Homo sapiens: one gene and its partners. The protein of the gene in region 1 interacts with the protein of each later gene in a biochemical or structural test. Each region holds a gene or a part of one and is shown in the gene's direction. Other genes may lie near its edges.

Region 1 (4,043 bases):
ATGATTTTGCATAATCTTTTTTTCAGTCAGACTAAACGGTAAGCAGTTTTTCAACTCATTAAAGAATCTTCTCAGTTGATGGCTGTAATTATCTGTTAAGGGCATAAGATACTCAGCTGCAGTAGTGTAATATTTACTATATAGCTTAGTTGTTCCATGTTTTAAGAGCAAAATTTCTAGCTTTCGTTGGCTATTTAGTGTATACATTTATACCATAGTAATAGTTATATGATGAAATGAAGAGTAGCTAACATGCTCTATATCTTAACAGGGATTTATTCAGTGGAACTCATAAATGACAGTTTATATGACTGGCATGTTAAACTGCAGAAGTAAGTGGCTTTTTAATGCTCACCCACTCTTTGCAATGGTAGACTATCACAGTGGAGGTTATTTTCCTTCTAACTTGATACCTTTATACTATGGCTTTTACTTAGAACTTTAGACTTTGTTTCTATAGAAATAGTTCTTAGATTGTTTAAATGAGCTGTTGCTGAGGTCTAATAAGAAAGTGAGAAAGAGGAAGGACAGAAAGAGGGACCAGCTGCGGGATAAAGTGTTTTATGGAGTTAGAGCAGGGGAACTTAAAAACAAAAGTGTATTTAATAACTTCATGAGACTGTGATAACCAGTTTATATTTGAAATATATACAGCACTTTGGGAGACTGAGGTGAGAGGATCTCTTGAGCCCAGGAGTTTGAGACCAGCCTGGGCAACATAGCAAGACTTCATCTCTACAAAAAAAAAAAAATTAGCCAGGCATGGTGGAGTACACCTGTAGTCCCAGCTACTGGGGGTGGTGGGAGGCTGAGGCAGGAAGATCTTGCACTCCAGACATCAAGGCTGCAGTGAGTCACGATCGTATCACTATATTCCAGCCTGGGCAACAGAATGAGGCACCCGGTCTCTTAAAAAAAAAAAAAAAAAAAAAAAAAAAGTTGGGGGGAGGTGGGATTCAAATTAGACCTGTATATATAGGACAGTTGTAGACAAATACAGGTTTTTTTAGTGATTTAAGTTTTCATAGTTCTGACCATGGCAAACTTTTCTCCTTGAACCCTTTGGCTAATAATGTAAGTTTAATATGCTTTCCTAAACTTTTTTTGAGTTCTTGAGAAAATTATATTCATGTGACTATTTTCCTTTAGAGTGACTGCAAACTCTGAACTCCTTTACTAGATTAGATTTAGAGTATTATGGTCTCTTTTGGACATTTATTCCCAAGGAGCTGGAACCTATGGTGACCTCTATTTTTCCTGGTGATACAGAGCAGCTTTAGACCTTCTCTTTCTGGAACTTGCCCTAGGTGCTCTATTTTAGCTGTCATACTAGTTCATTTTTGAGTTTAGTTAAAAAAAAAAATCTCTAACTTTTTATTTGAACTGTTTTTTGTTTTGTAATTCTTAGGGTTGACCCTGATAGTCCTTTGCACAGTGATCTTCAGATCTTAAAAGAAAAAGAAGGCATAGAATATATTTTGCTTAACTTCTCTTTTAAGGTAAGAAAATAGTTACAGGACCCCATATACTTCCAGTGGGGTGCGTATATTTGTACAAGTGCTTTGGAAAACAATTTGGTAAAGTAGAAGATACTCATACCCTATGGTTCAGGAATCTCGTAGACATATTCTCCGTTAAGACGTGAGTACTTAGGCGTACCAGGAGACACAGGAATGTTCAGAGCAGCATCGTTTATAATAGCACCAAATAGAAAACCCAAGTGTTCATTCCAATAAAATGGAGAATTGTGGTGTTTATAAAGTGGTTTACAGCTATGTGGGACAAGATGGGTGGATCTTGAACACAGTTGTAAAAGAGACTGGACTCCAAAACCTATTTTGTACAATTCCCTTTATATACAGTTCAAAAATAGGTAAAACTAATGTTGATTAGGGCATGCATTCTTAGTGGAGGCAATATCACCTGCAGTGTAGTGAAAACTGATCTTTAGAGTGAAAACAATCTTAGCTATTAAAATGGTCTGCTGCCCTCCAAAGGGCCACAGAACATAAACAGATATACGATTTATCTATGGTGTTAAAATTCCATGGAGCAGGGGGGTAAAACTAGGAAGAAAACTTCTAAAAAGGCTTCTTAGGGGGGCAAAAATGAAAAGAAAACTGAGAAACACTTATTTATGGATTCATACGTGAGCAGTAAAACTGCCCAAAGAGGAAAACTGTCCAAGAACAAAGAGGTGATTACATACAGGTTAGGGTAAGGAGTCCATCTAGGTGGGAGGTAGGGAGGTGTGAACTGAAAGGTATATCTGCGCAGGCTTCTTGGATACTGGCTGGAATATATTTCTGGGCCAGGTTGATGGTTACATGAGCACATAATTTACAATAGCTTCTTAAGGTATATCTCTATATTTTATGTACTTTTCTGAATTTATGTGTTATATTTAATAAGGTTTTTTTTTGTTTGTTTGTTTGTTTTTTGAGACAGAGTCTTGCTCTGTTGCCCAGGCTGGAGTTCAGTGGCACAGTTTTGGCTCACTGCAACCTCTGCCTCCTAGGTTCAAGTGATTCTCCTGCCTCAGCCTCCTGAGTAGCTGGGATTACAGGTGCATGTCACCATGCCCGGCTAATTTTTTTATTTTTAGTAGAGACGGGGTTTCACCATGTTTGCCAGGTTGGTCTTGAATTCCTAACCTCAGGTGATCTGCCTGCCTCGGCCTCCCAAAGTGCTGGGATTATAGGTGTGAGCCACCACACCTGGCCTAATAAGTATTTTAAAGATGCTAAAAATAATGGTTAAAGAATAGCAATGGAATCTAGAAAAAATGTTAATGATTTTTTTTTTTTTTTGAGACAGAATCTTGCTCTGTTGCCCAGGCTGGAGTGCAGTGGCCCAGGCTGGCGTGTGGTGGCACAATCTTGGCTCACTGCAACCTCTGCCTCCCGGGTTTAAGCAGTTCTCTGCCCCAGCCCCCCGAGTAGCTGGGATTATAGGCATGTGCCACTATGTCCGCATAATTTTTGTATTTTTAGTAGAGATGGGGTTTCACCATCTTGGCCAGGCTGGTTTTGAACTCCTGACCTCATGGTACACTTCCCTTGGCCTTCCAAAGTGCTGGGATTACAGGCGTGATTTAATATGGATCTGGATGAGATGTAATGGTTTAAAATCTGTGGATATATGAGATATTTTGATGGAAAAAGCAATACTTCCTTTGTACTTACAAAAAAGGTAGTAATTTTCTAAAAGCTTCTTACGTAGCTTTTTTATGTGTGTGTTTTTGCTTGGGGATATATCTTATGATTGAACTTTCTTGAAGTGACCCAAATGTCAGTATTATCTCTCACTTTTGTTATTATAGAAACTGTTGTGGTTGTCAACTGGGTTGTCTTCCTAAAATATGAGTCTGGTATATATTGACTGAAGTTGCTAATGGCTACATTTTTACTAATTCATATGGGGGAACGAATAAAGCACCCAGGCCAAAAACAAAAAACAAAACACACAAAAAAGGAAGGTATCTTTCTTTTTAAAAAATTGAATTATATGTCCTTATGCCTAACACCAAACTTAAGAAATAGAACCTTTTTTTTTTTTATCCGTCCCTGTGGCCCCCTGTGTGCCCCTCCCTTGTCACTTCCTCTTTGAGAGGTATCTTTACGGGAATATGAAATATTGGCCAGGAAACTGGAGGATTTGTGACTATAGGTAGTGTTTTCATTATTTTTTCCTGCTCTAGGTAGAACTTCAGGGAGGGGACGATCTGGGAGGTAAATGGCTGAATTTCTGTTGGATTTGTGTTTCTGGACCATGGCTCCTGATACCACAAAGAAGGGCCTTTTCTGGGGTTGGAGTATTTCTTGAGAGGCCTAGGAAGAATGTGATTGCCTTGAGCTAACTGACCTTATGAAGAGGACCTTAAACTGAATTGCCAAGTTATTAGTATCGGGATTCACAGACTTTGGAGGATAGCAGGTATGACTCAGAAAGATTTGCAGGAAAGAGCCAGAACAGTATATATTTATGGCCTCTGATGTCCACGGTGACAACTTGAATAATAAGAAAAATGGAACTTGAGATAA
Region 2 (3,771 bases), on another chromosome or scaffold:
GAATTGTCTCGGGCCACACATAAAATATACTAATACTAACGATAGCTGATGAGCTGAAAAAATAAAAGAAAAAAAGATCCGTGCATAAATCTCATAATGTCTTAAGAAAATTTACAAATTTGTGTTGGGCAGCATTCAAAGTCATCCTGGGCTGCATATGGGCCACAGGTTAGACAAGCTTGATCTAGCTGAAGTTTTACAAAGTGAACACACAGGTGACCACCACCTGGGCCAAGAAACAGAACCTAGGGATTACCATTGTGCTGTCAGAATAATTCTTAGTGCAGTGTTTGAGGCCAAACCATTTAGAATAGTAGGAGTATGAGGGTGGGAACAAAATAGGGAAGGGAAAAAAAAAACAGTTCCATCTGTCACTTTCTCCCTTCTGACACTGCAGTTCCAGAGTGGGTATGTTTGTATTTGTGCACCAACCACAGTCTTGCTAGGTCATGTGTAACCTTGAACTTAACCTCTCTGTGCCGCAGATTCCTGTTCTGTAAAATGGGAATGACAGCATCTACCTCACAGGACTATTGTGAACCACTTGGCATTTACTGTGTGCCTGGCACTGTTTTAACCAAGCTTTAAATATATATGTATTTGCTCATTTCTTCCTAGCAACCCCATGAAGGTAGGTATCACTGTTGTAACACCTGTTTTAGAGACAAGGCACAGAGGTAAAGATGTTATCCTGTGTGCCTGAAGTCACAAAACTAGGTAATACGTGGCATAGCTGGAATCTGAACCTGAATTTCTAACATCTGTACACTCCAAACCACCTCGCTAATGACTGCGAACTGTCCTAGGAATTCTCAGAGGCCAGAAGTTCTGTCTTGTTTGCTATTTTATTTTTTGAGACAGGTCTCATTCTGCCATTCAGGCTGAAGTGTATTGGCACAATCATAGCTCACTGCAACCTTCCAACTCCTGGGAAGTGTCTGTACGTGTGTGTGTGTGTGTGTGTAAGTGTCTGTGTGTACGTGTAAGTGTGTGTACGTGTGTGTGTGTGTGTGTGCGCACGCACGCGTGCCCGTTACGTTGACCAGGCTGGTTGTAAACTCCTGGGCTCAAGTGATCCACCTGCCTCAGCCTCCAAAAGTGCTGGGATTACATGTGTAAGCCTCTGTGTCCGGCCTCTGTCTTGTTTTCTGCCAAGTCCTCAGGGCCTGGATAGGGATCATTGTTGGTTTGGTCTGAGTTTTTTGTGTTTTAAAAAACTGTGGTAAGATATACCTAATTGAAGTTTTTATTTTTTATGGAGGCATAACATATCTAGAATAAGGTACACAGATTTTTTTTTTTTTTTTTTTGAGGTGGAGTTTTGCTCATGTTGCCCAGGTTGGAGTGCAGTGGCGCAGTCTCGGCTCACTGCAGCCTCCGCCTCCCAGGTTCAAGCGATTCTCCTGCCTCAGCCTTCCAAAGTGCTGGGAATACAGGCGTGAGCCACCTCGCCTGGCACTCAGATCTTAATACATTTTTAGGCTGGGCATGGCGGCTGACACCTATAATCTCAGCACTCAGGAGGCCAAGGAGTGAGGTTTGTTTGAGCCCAGGAGTTCAAGACCAGCCTAGGCAACATAGCAAGACCCTGTCTCTACAACAAATCTTAAAAATTAGCCGGGTGTGGTGGCATGTGCCTGCTGTCCCAGCTATTCGGGAGGCTGAGGTGGGAGGATCGTTTCAACCTGGGAGGTCAAGGCTGCTGTGAGCCGTGATTGCATCGCTGCACTCCAGCTCGGGTGACAGTGTGAGACTTTGTCTCAAACAACAAAACAAAACAGTTTTCCACATACACAGCACTATTGTAACCACTGCCCAAATCAACTTCATTGATTTTTCTTTTTTTGAGACAGTCTTCCTCTGTCACCCAGGCTGGAGTGCAATGGCATGATCTCGGCTCACTGCAACCTCCGCCTCCCGGGTTCAAGAGATTTCCTGCCTCAGCCTCCTGAGTAGCTGGGATTACAGGCATCTGCCACCACGCCCAGCTACTTTTTGTATTTTTAGTAGAGATGGGGTTTCACCATGTTGGTCAGGCTGGTCTCGAACCCTTGACCTCAGGTGATCCATCTGCCTTAGCCTCCCAAAGTGCTGGGATTACAGGTGTGAGCTACTGTGCCTGGCCTGGTTTTTCAATTGAGGTGGGGGAATGGGGAAGGCTAGAGGGCTTCCCCACTTCCAGAGTAGCTGTGCGCCTTGTACTTGCTTTATTCACTGATGGTCCTTCTAATAATGCCTGCGGAAACCCATTTTGTCAACTGTGGCCACATGTAATCTGTTTGCTCTGTCTGCAGTGGGCTCGGGATGAGTTTGAAGGCCTCTTCAAGCAGCCAGCAGAAAATGTCAACCAGTACCTCACGTGAGTAACTCGAGTGCCCTCTCGCCCTGTCCCTGTCCACCAGCCAAGGCATCCCGGCTGCTTTCCTCATGACAGTAACACTTGGCACCAGGCACACTTTTCACATGAATGAGTGGCTGTTGGGGCCTCATGTTGTTTGGGGTCGGGACTAGTTTTCCATGGAGAAAGTAAGATTGCTCTGGAGCCCACTCTTGAGGCTGACATGTAATCCTATCCTCTGTCCTCTTCGATTCCTGATAGAGACCCCAAGTTTGTGGAGCGAACACTGCGGCTGGCAGGCACTCAGCCCTTGGAGGTGCTGGAGGCTGTGCAGCGCAGCCTGGTGCTGCAGCGACCACAGACCTGGGCTGACTGCGTGACCTGGGCCTGCCACCACTGGCACACCCAGTACTCGAACAACATCCGGCAGCTGCTGCACAACTTCCCTCCTGACCAGGTAATGCCCAGTTGTTGGGTCCATTTGGCAGAATGTGTTTCCCTGAAATGGGAGCCTGCAGTGTGGGTCCTCCCACTGTGGAGTCCAGCTGTGGCAGGTGCCCTGAGGCATGGGGATCTGAGAAGAGTGATTGATCCTGACCTGCTTTTTCCTCACCCTAGTTCCTTTGAGCAAAGAGGCTTGGTTGCTATTGCCCTTGACTGTGGTGTGGGCTGCGTCATACCTGATTCCCAGTCAGGGCTGTAGGGATTATGGGGGAGAAATTCTGGAGTTAAGAGCACAGGAATCAATATGGGTTCAAATCCAAACTCTACTTGAACTTAGGCAAATCACGTAACTTCTCTCTGTACCTCAGTTTCCTCGTCTGTGAAGTAGAAATAATAGTGATCTATCTCATGGGGGGTTTGGGGAGGATTAACTGGTATTTATTAAAATGAAGTTAGTACAATGCCTGGTAATCCATGAGAGTTTGTTAAATGATGGGCTGTTTAGCACAAAATGGCTACCCAGTGATTGGTAATTGTTCTCTCAGCCAGATCTCTGGTTCAACCTGTGGGACCCTACAGTTGAGGTATTTTGTGATTGGCTCCAGTCCGCATCGAGTGCCCAACCCAAGATAGTGAATTGGGGGCACATCTGGGGCCTAGGTGAAGCGTGAAGATTGTCAGAGAGGCCTTCACTCTCAGGTCCTGTTCTCAAAAATCTCTCCATCCCTTAGCTCACAAGCTCAGGAGCGCCGTTCTGGTCTGGGCCCAAACGCTGTCCACACCCGCTCACCTTTGATGTCAACAATGTAAGTCTCCTTTCTAGGGTCTTCTGGGGTCAGGTGGAGGGTGAATAGGTGGGAAGGAGGTGGCGGCTCCCCACTCGAGGGCTGATGTGCTCACCCTTCCCTGCCCTGCCTTCTCCTAGCCCCTGCATCTGGACTATGTGATGGCTGCTGCCAACCTGTTTGCCCAGACCTACGGGCTGACAG
Region 3 (3,771 bases), on another chromosome or scaffold:
CTCACCCAGTCACGCAGGATGGAGTGCAGTGACAGGACCTCCAGAGCTCAAGTGATCTTCCCACCCCAGCCTCCCTGAGTAGCTGGGACAACAGGCATGCATTAGCATGCCTGGCTAATTTTTAAAATTTTTTTGTAGAGAAAGGTTCTCTTTACGTTGCCCAGTCTGGTCTTAACTCCTGTGTTCAAGTGGTCCTCCCACCTTGGCCTCCTAAAGTGTTGGGATTACAGGTGTAAGCTACTGTGCTCTGGCTAAAAATTTTAAGTATAATGCTAAAAATTTGGAATTTTATGTTGGTAGAAATAGATACAGGGCTGGGCTCAGTGCCTCACACCTGTAATCTCAACAGTTTGGGAGGCTGAGGCGGGTGAATCGCTTGAGCTCAGGAGTTTGAGACCAGCCTGGGCAACATGGTGATATCCCGTCTTTACCAAAAGGAAGGAAAAAAAAAAGAAATAGATGCAGATTTTTCGACAGGGAAATGATGTGAGTACATATGTGTTTTAGAAAATTGCTGTGTACTGCAGGACAAAGATAGGTATCAAAAAACAAAAAAAGAAAGATTGCTCTGGTGATGAGCGAAAGGATGAGGGACTAGCTATTGCAGAAGTCTAGTTGAGAAATGACAAAGCCTGACCTTGGAGAGAGGTTGTGGGGATGATCAAAGGATTGGATTTAGCTTTTTACTAGTGCAATATTGTTGCCATATTTCTAGATGAGGATTTTTTTTTAGAGCTAATCTGGGTAAAGGGCTCCTTTTCTGTCAAAAGAACCCATTAGCAAGTCTGAATAATATTGCCAGGTTATATATGTTATGTATAGTATGAGAGTGAATTGTTCATTAGCATCTTTGAGAAATTAGAAAGAACTATGTCAGGTGTAATTTGGAAGAGAACTTGAAGTTTGTTATTGTTACTATTTTTGAGATGGAGTCTTGCTCGGCCATGCAGGCTGGAGTGCAGTGATGTGATCTCGGCTCACTGCAACCTCCACCTCCCGGGTTCAAGCGATTCGTGTGCCTCAGCCTCCCAAGTAGCTGCCTCCCAAGTAGCTGGAATTAGAGGTGCATGCCACCAAGCCTGGCTAATTTAGAACTTGGAGTTTGGACTGAAATTTATGCCTCTAAAAAGTATTGATCTAGGCTTGTTGGGAGTGTTTTTCTCTCAGCCTGTAGAAACTTGCTCATTGAGTTTTAGAGTTGGGAGAAGTTACAGAGATTATCTAGTCCATAATGGCAAATATATTTTGGTTTATTGGCCAGCTCTAATTGGAAGCTGCCAGAAGCACTGTGTTTGGAAGGATTCTGGTTGTAGGTGCTCTGAGAAATTGTATTATGGTTGATCAATGATGTCTCCTGTGGACAGTTACCTAGTAGGTAGTAGACATGTGCCAAATATATGCTATTCTTAGATAAGTCCAATCTCTTAGTTTTCTGTTTTGTTGTTGTTTGTTTGTTTTAAAGGTTAAATAATTTACCTGAAACTAGTTAAGAGTAAGAACTAGAACTAGAACTGGGTTTTGCAACTCTGGGACTGGTATTCTCTGGTTTACAAAGATCAATGTGCACTACTGAAGAGCTTCTGGTATTAGACTAGAAAAAGAAAAGGGAGATTTTTAGCCTATGCGTCTTGACTGTTTAGGCAAGAGTTTAACAAGGAATTTTGGCCTAGAAGTAAGTTTTGTTATATTCATTCTGTCTTAAGAAATTTGTGTTAGGGCCGGGCGCGGTGGCTCATGCCTGTAATCCCAGCATTTTGGGAGGCTGAAGCGGGCAGATCACGAGGTCAGGAGATCGAGATCATCCTGGCCAACGTGGTGAAACCCCCATCTCTACTAAAATACAAAAAATTAGCTGGGTGTGGTGGCATGCACCTGTAGTACCAGCTACTTGGGAGGCTGAGGCAGGAGAACCACTTGAACCTGGGAGGCGGAGGTTGCAGTGAGCTGAGATTGTGCCACTGCACTCCAGCCTGGCAACAAGAATGAGACTCTGTCTCAAAAGAAAAAAAAAAAAAAATTCGTGTTAGTACTGATAGGAAATAGTCATCTGTTTTGTTGTTTTGCCACTTTCTTTCTTGTTGCCTAAGTCTCTGTTTTGGGTTTTGGACATTGGTTTCCTTTATAAGAATTAAGACAAAAGTATGTAAGGTTTTTTTTTTTGTATTTATAGTACTTAGCCAAATTCTGGGCTCATAATAAGCACTCAGTAAAGGCATGTTGACTTTTATGGCTGTAAATGATACTGGCTTTGAGTCAATATAAATTAGTTAGGGGGTTCACAGAATTGAATTGCAGCATTCTCTGGTTGGGAGGTTGGCTTTCAGCTAAAAACGTTAAGTTGGAAACTATCCTCACAACTAGAAGCAGTTAACCAGAAGCTGTTCCTGCCTCTATCCTCCTCCAGTCTAGCAGTGTACTGTCCTTGAAAAACTGCTGCCAGCTCAGCTTTTTTGCTTCTTTTCAGAACTGACTATATCCAGATCCTTGGTGTGCGTTTTCTTTTCCTGTCCCTAGGAGTCTCCAAGTTGCAGGGACTATCATTATGGTGACCCTTATAGGCTGGTGTATTTATATGGCCATCCTCATTTTGCCAGATAGCCGTCATACTCAGATTGGTGTCTTCCCATAATACGTATGAATCATTTTCCCTCAGTTCTTTCTTTTGTCCTGTCTGCTCCATTAAAAATTGTCTATCCCATGAAATTTTTAAAAGAGACTTTGTGCTTTTAGAGTCGCAAGGTCGTTGCAGATCTGATGTGTTTAACTATAGAGGTCAGCTGGGTGTGGTGGCTCACGCCTGTAATCCCAGCACTTTGGGAGGCTGAGGTGGGTGGATCACGAGGTCAGGAGTTCAAGACCAGCCTGACCAATATGGTGAAACCCCATCTCTACTAAAAATACGAAAGTTAGCCAGGCGTGGGGGTGCACGCCCGTAGTGTAGTCCCAGCTACTCAGGAGGCTGAGGCAGAAGAATCGCTTGAACCCAGGAGGCGAAGGTTGGAGTGAGCCAATATCATGCCACTGCACTCTAGCCTGGCGACAGAGCAAGACTCCATCTCAAAAACAAACAAACAAAAAAATATAGAAGTAATGTGTTAATGGACTCTCCTTCCTTTCTCAGGTACCATGCATTTCACGGTGGCCTTGTGGAGACAACGCCTTAACCCAAGGAAGTGACTCAAACTGTGAGAACTTCAGGTATGGTGTCATCCTGTGAGAGAAATTGGGGGCAAGAGTGATGCAGAGGCCAAGCTCTGGTCTTATACCTGCTGTGAGGAGAGAGCAGTGTTGATGCTAGCTGCATCAGTTGGTTGAACATATAGGCAGCTTCACTTGGTTCTGAAACCCAAAGCTGCCTCTGCAGGGATTAGCCTGTGAGCCACACTGTGCTCTTAATTTGGGTTTTCTGACTTTTCTGTTTTTGTAGATCCCTTATACATATGCATACTTTTTCTATTTGTGTTGTTTTATACACGTTTATCTCTGTATACTATCTAGACATGTGCATGTGTAGGATTAAGAGGTGGGTAATGAAAAAGAAGACAACATGGCCAGGTGCAGTGGCTCATGCCTGTAATTCCAGCACTTTGTGGGGCGAAGGTGGGAGGATCACTTGAACCCAAGAGTTTGGGACCAGCCTGGACAACATGGCGAGACCCTGACTCCACACAAAATAAAAAAAAATCAGCTGGTGTGGTGGCGTGTACCTGTAATCCTAGCTGATTGGGAGGGTGACATGGGAGGATCACTTGAGCCAGGAGGTTGAGGCTG
Region 4 (3,409 bases), on another chromosome or scaffold:
CAGATTCATCAAGATCCTCGATAGTGTCCTGCACCACCTGGTACCTGCCTGGGACCACACACTGGGCACCTTCAGTGAGATTAAGGTGAGCCGACCCAGCCAGTGCTGGTCTTGGCATTTCCCCTTCCTGCTCACGTAGTTGTTCATTCCTTAGCAGAGTTCCTAAAATCTACTCTAGGGCAAGACCTTTGCTGGGTCTGGGAACATAGGAAGAAAGCCAGAACAAATGGTCCAAATTTAGTGTTTGGGAGGCTGTTCCCCAGCCTCCTTGGTATTCCAGAGTGTGTGGAATACCCAAGGGCTATTGACAGCACAGGCAGGGCAGTTTGCGTGAAAGGTACATACAGGGAGTTACCAGCAGCTCAAGATGTCTTGAGAAAAGTGTGCCAGTAGGTGTGAGTATGACAGAGGGATGAGGGTGGAAGGATGTGGGCAGGAGACAGGTCCTGGTTGCAGAGGGCCCTGTGGGCCAGGCTGTGAAGCAAGGACTTTGTCCCAGGGTAGTGGAGCTGTTGGAAAGGTAAGGAAGGTAATGACAGTATTAGATTTTTTTGTTTTAGAAAGCTCTCCCTGGTGGCTGAACTAAGGAGGGGACTGGAGACAAAGACAGGGATGGACTAGACTTGAACTGAAACGGTGGAATTGGATACAGGCAGAGGGGAAAGTTCCAGGGCCTGGACGGAGGCTGACTGCCCACTCATTCCTGCTCTGGCCACCTCTCCTCACTAGCAAGTGAAGCAGTTCCTACTGCTGTCCCGCCAGCGGCCAGGCCTGGTGGCTCAGTGCCTGCGTGACTCTGAGAGCAGCAAGCCCAGCTTCATGCCACGCCTATACATCAACCGCCGTCTTGCCATGGAACACCGTGCCTGCCCCTCTCGAGACCCTGCCTGCAAGAATGCAGTCTTCACCCAGGTCTGCACCACCTAGGGTCCGACTGAGATAGGATCAGTCAAGGGCCAAGGGGGCTAGGCCAAGAGGGACCTGAACAAGTTCTTGGGGCAAGTATAGGGCCAGGTCTTGCTTTCCTATGACTCCTTTCCTCCTTGCCTCCAGGTATATGAAGGCCTCAAGCCCTCTGACAAATATGAAAAGCCCCTGGACTACAGGTATGGCATGAGAGTGAGGGACTTACTCGGGACACCTGTTTGTGCACACAAACACACACAAACACACACACACACACACACACACACACACAACTGCTCGAGGCACCCCTCGCCATGACTGCTTTTCCCAGGTGGTCTCTGAGCTGATGAATTGTGCTGCACCTGGCCCCACATAATGACAAATCTGCCCACGTTTTTTGCAGGTGGCCCATGCGCTATGACCAGTGGTGGGAGTGTAAATTTATTGCAGAAGGCATCATTGACCAAGGTGAGGCCCTGAGGGAGGATCTCAAGGGTCCTGCTTGCTGCCCTATCAAAGTGGTAGAGGCTTTTCACCAGCTAATGATGATGGGGGACCTATTCATTACCCCATTATGGGAGCTGGGCTCTTGAGTGCCCAGCTGAGGGCATCTGTCATTTCAGGGGGTGGTTTCCGGGACAGCCTGGCAGATATGTCAGAAGAGCTGTGCCCTAGCTCAGCGGATACCCCCGTGCCCCTGCCCTTCTTTGTACGCACAGCCAACCAGGTAATCTCCGTTTCCATCTCTGCAAACCTCCCAGGTGCCAGATTGAGCTAGAAAGGGGGCAGAGGAGGGGGCCAGATTGAGCTAGAAAGGGGGCAGGCACAGTGGCTCACGCCTGTAATCCCAGCACTTTGGGAAGCCGAGGCGGGCAGATCACGAGGTCAGGAGTTCAAGACCAGCCTGGCCAATGAAGTGAAGCCCCATCTCTATAAAAATAAAAAATTAGCCGGGCGTGGTGGCACGCGCCTGTAGTCCCAGCTACATGGGAGGCTGAAGCAGGCGACTCGCTTGAACCCAGGAGACGGAGGTTGCAGTGAGCCGAGATCACGCCACTGCACTCCAGCCTGGGTGACACAGTGAGACTCTGTCTCAAAAAAAAAAAAAAATAGAAATAGGGCAGAGGAGGGACTGAGTTGCTCAGGGCAACCTCTGGGCAGACAGGGAGAGGAGGAGCCACTGTGCATTTGAAGGGATCATTTAGTGGAAAATGTTCCCAGTGGAAAATGTTCAGGGAAGTCTTTGGGCCAGGAAAATAGGGTGTATCTCATGCCACACTCACAGCTCTGTCTCTGGGGCAGGGCAATGGCACTGGTGAGGCTCGGGACATGTATGTACCCAACCCCTCCTGCCGAGACTTTGCCAAGTATGAATGGATCGGACAGCTGATGGGGGCTGCCCTTCGGGGTAAGGAGTTCCTGGTGAGTAGCCTTATCCACACCCCCGTCCGATCAGCCCTGGCCCTTGGAAGGAAAGGCCAGCCAAACCTGGGCAGCTCAGGGTGAGAAGACAGTGGGGAGTGTTTGTCACACAGGTCCTGGCCCTGCCTGGTTTTGTGTGGAAGCAGCTTTCTGGTGAGGAGGTGAGCTGGAGCAAGGACTTCCCAGCTGTGGACTCTGTGCTGGTGAGTAGGACCTGGAACCAGTGTTTCCTCTGCCCAGCCCCTAAAGGTTGGTCCTCCCTAAGGCTGTTCTGTACCTTGTTCTTTCACCACACACAAGATCCCTCTCCAATCCATCCACTCCCATGGCTTCAACTACTGTCTGTAGACTCGTGACCCCTAAAATCCTGACCTCTAGCCCCAGCCTCTCCTAAGCCTGGGGCCATATATGTATCTGTACCCTCGACGTTTGCCCCAAGATGGCATCTCAGGCTCAGTGTGTTCTTTATCTTCTCCGAAGACTACTCCCCTCTAGGGCTCCTGCCTCAGAAGGGCACCATGTCCCACTCCTCCCCATCCCAAAGCCCACAGGGCCATCCTTCACCCCTTCTTCTCCCTCGCCACCATATTCTTAAGTCTTCCTCTGTAATCTGTTTGCTTTTCCTGTCTCACTACTGTCTCCCTGCCTGGTTGAGGACACCTTTCCTCCTTAGCTAATCACTTACTAAAAAGCTGGTGTCCCTGTCTCCGTTCTTACCCGTTTGGTCTCCATGCAGCCACAGTAATTCATTTCACTCTCCTTATTTAAACTCATTGATGGCTCGGCCCTGGGCTTAGGATAGAATGCAGAATCTGTAAAGGCCTTACGTGAACCCTGTGTCTCCAGCCACTTGGTTCACATTCAGGCTCCAGCCACACAGTTTCCTTAGGCCTTTTGCTCTTTCCAGCTTTCTCCAAGATGTTCTCTCTCCTAACTTCCCTTATGTCCCAGCCATCATTTGGGTCTCAGCTGAGACACCATTTTCCACAGGATGCCTCCTCTGGCCTCCAAGGCTGGTTAGGTGTTGTCTTGATGCTTTTACAGCTCTTGTACTGACACCCTCATTCCCTGCTGCCTCCAT

The links.
Region 2: of the proteins of UBE2Q2 (region 1) and UBA1, one has a biochemical effect on the other in vitro, tested with the Homo sapiens proteins (3 studies listed by BioGRID).
Region 3: the proteins of UBE2Q2 (region 1) and ITCH form a complex in vitro, tested with the Homo sapiens proteins (one study listed by BioGRID).
Region 4: the proteins of UBE2Q2 (region 1) and HECTD3 form a complex in vitro, tested with the Homo sapiens proteins (one study listed by BioGRID).

The regions. Positions count from the first base shown.
Region 1 is NC_000015.10:75,877,690-75,881,732, forward strand, and holds part of UBE2Q2 (ubiquitin-conjugating enzyme E2 Q2), read left to right. Parts: intron 1-271; coding exon 272-332; intron 333-1,408; coding exon 1,409-1,499; intron 1,500-4,043.
Region 2 is NC_000023.11:47,207,329-47,211,099, forward strand, and holds part of UBA1 (ubiquitin-like modifier-activating enzyme 1), read left to right. Parts: intron 1-2,294; coding exon 2,295-2,359; intron 2,360-2,599; coding exon 2,600-2,795; intron 2,796-3,513; coding exon 3,514-3,588; intron 3,589-3,707; coding exon 3,708-3,771. UniProt on the Homo sapiens protein: Catalyzes the first step in ubiquitin conjugation to mark cellular proteins for degradation through the ubiquitin-proteasome system.
Region 3 is NC_000020.11:34,366,273-34,370,043, forward strand, and holds part of ITCH (E3 ubiquitin-protein ligase Itchy homolog), read left to right. Parts: intron 1-3,121; 5' UTR 3,122-3,198; intron 3,199-3,771. UniProt on the Homo sapiens protein: Acts as an Acts as an E3 ubiquitin-protein ligase which accepts ubiquitin from an E2 ubiquitin-conjugating enzyme in the form of a thioester and then directly transfers the ubiquitin to targeted substrates.
Region 4 is NC_000001.11:45,004,916-45,008,324, reverse strand, and holds part of HECTD3 (E3 ubiquitin-protein ligase HECTD3), read left to right. Parts: intron 1-3; coding exon 4-85; intron 86-729; coding exon 730-912; intron 913-1,053; coding exon 1,054-1,106; intron 1,107-1,309; coding exon 1,310-1,374; intron 1,375-1,529; coding exon 1,530-1,633; intron 1,634-2,208; coding exon 2,209-2,328; intron 2,329-2,441; coding exon 2,442-2,531; intron 2,532-3,409. UniProt on the Homo sapiens protein: E3 ubiquitin ligases accepts ubiquitin from an E2 ubiquitin-conjugating enzyme in the form of a thioester and then directly transfers the ubiquitin to targeted substrates.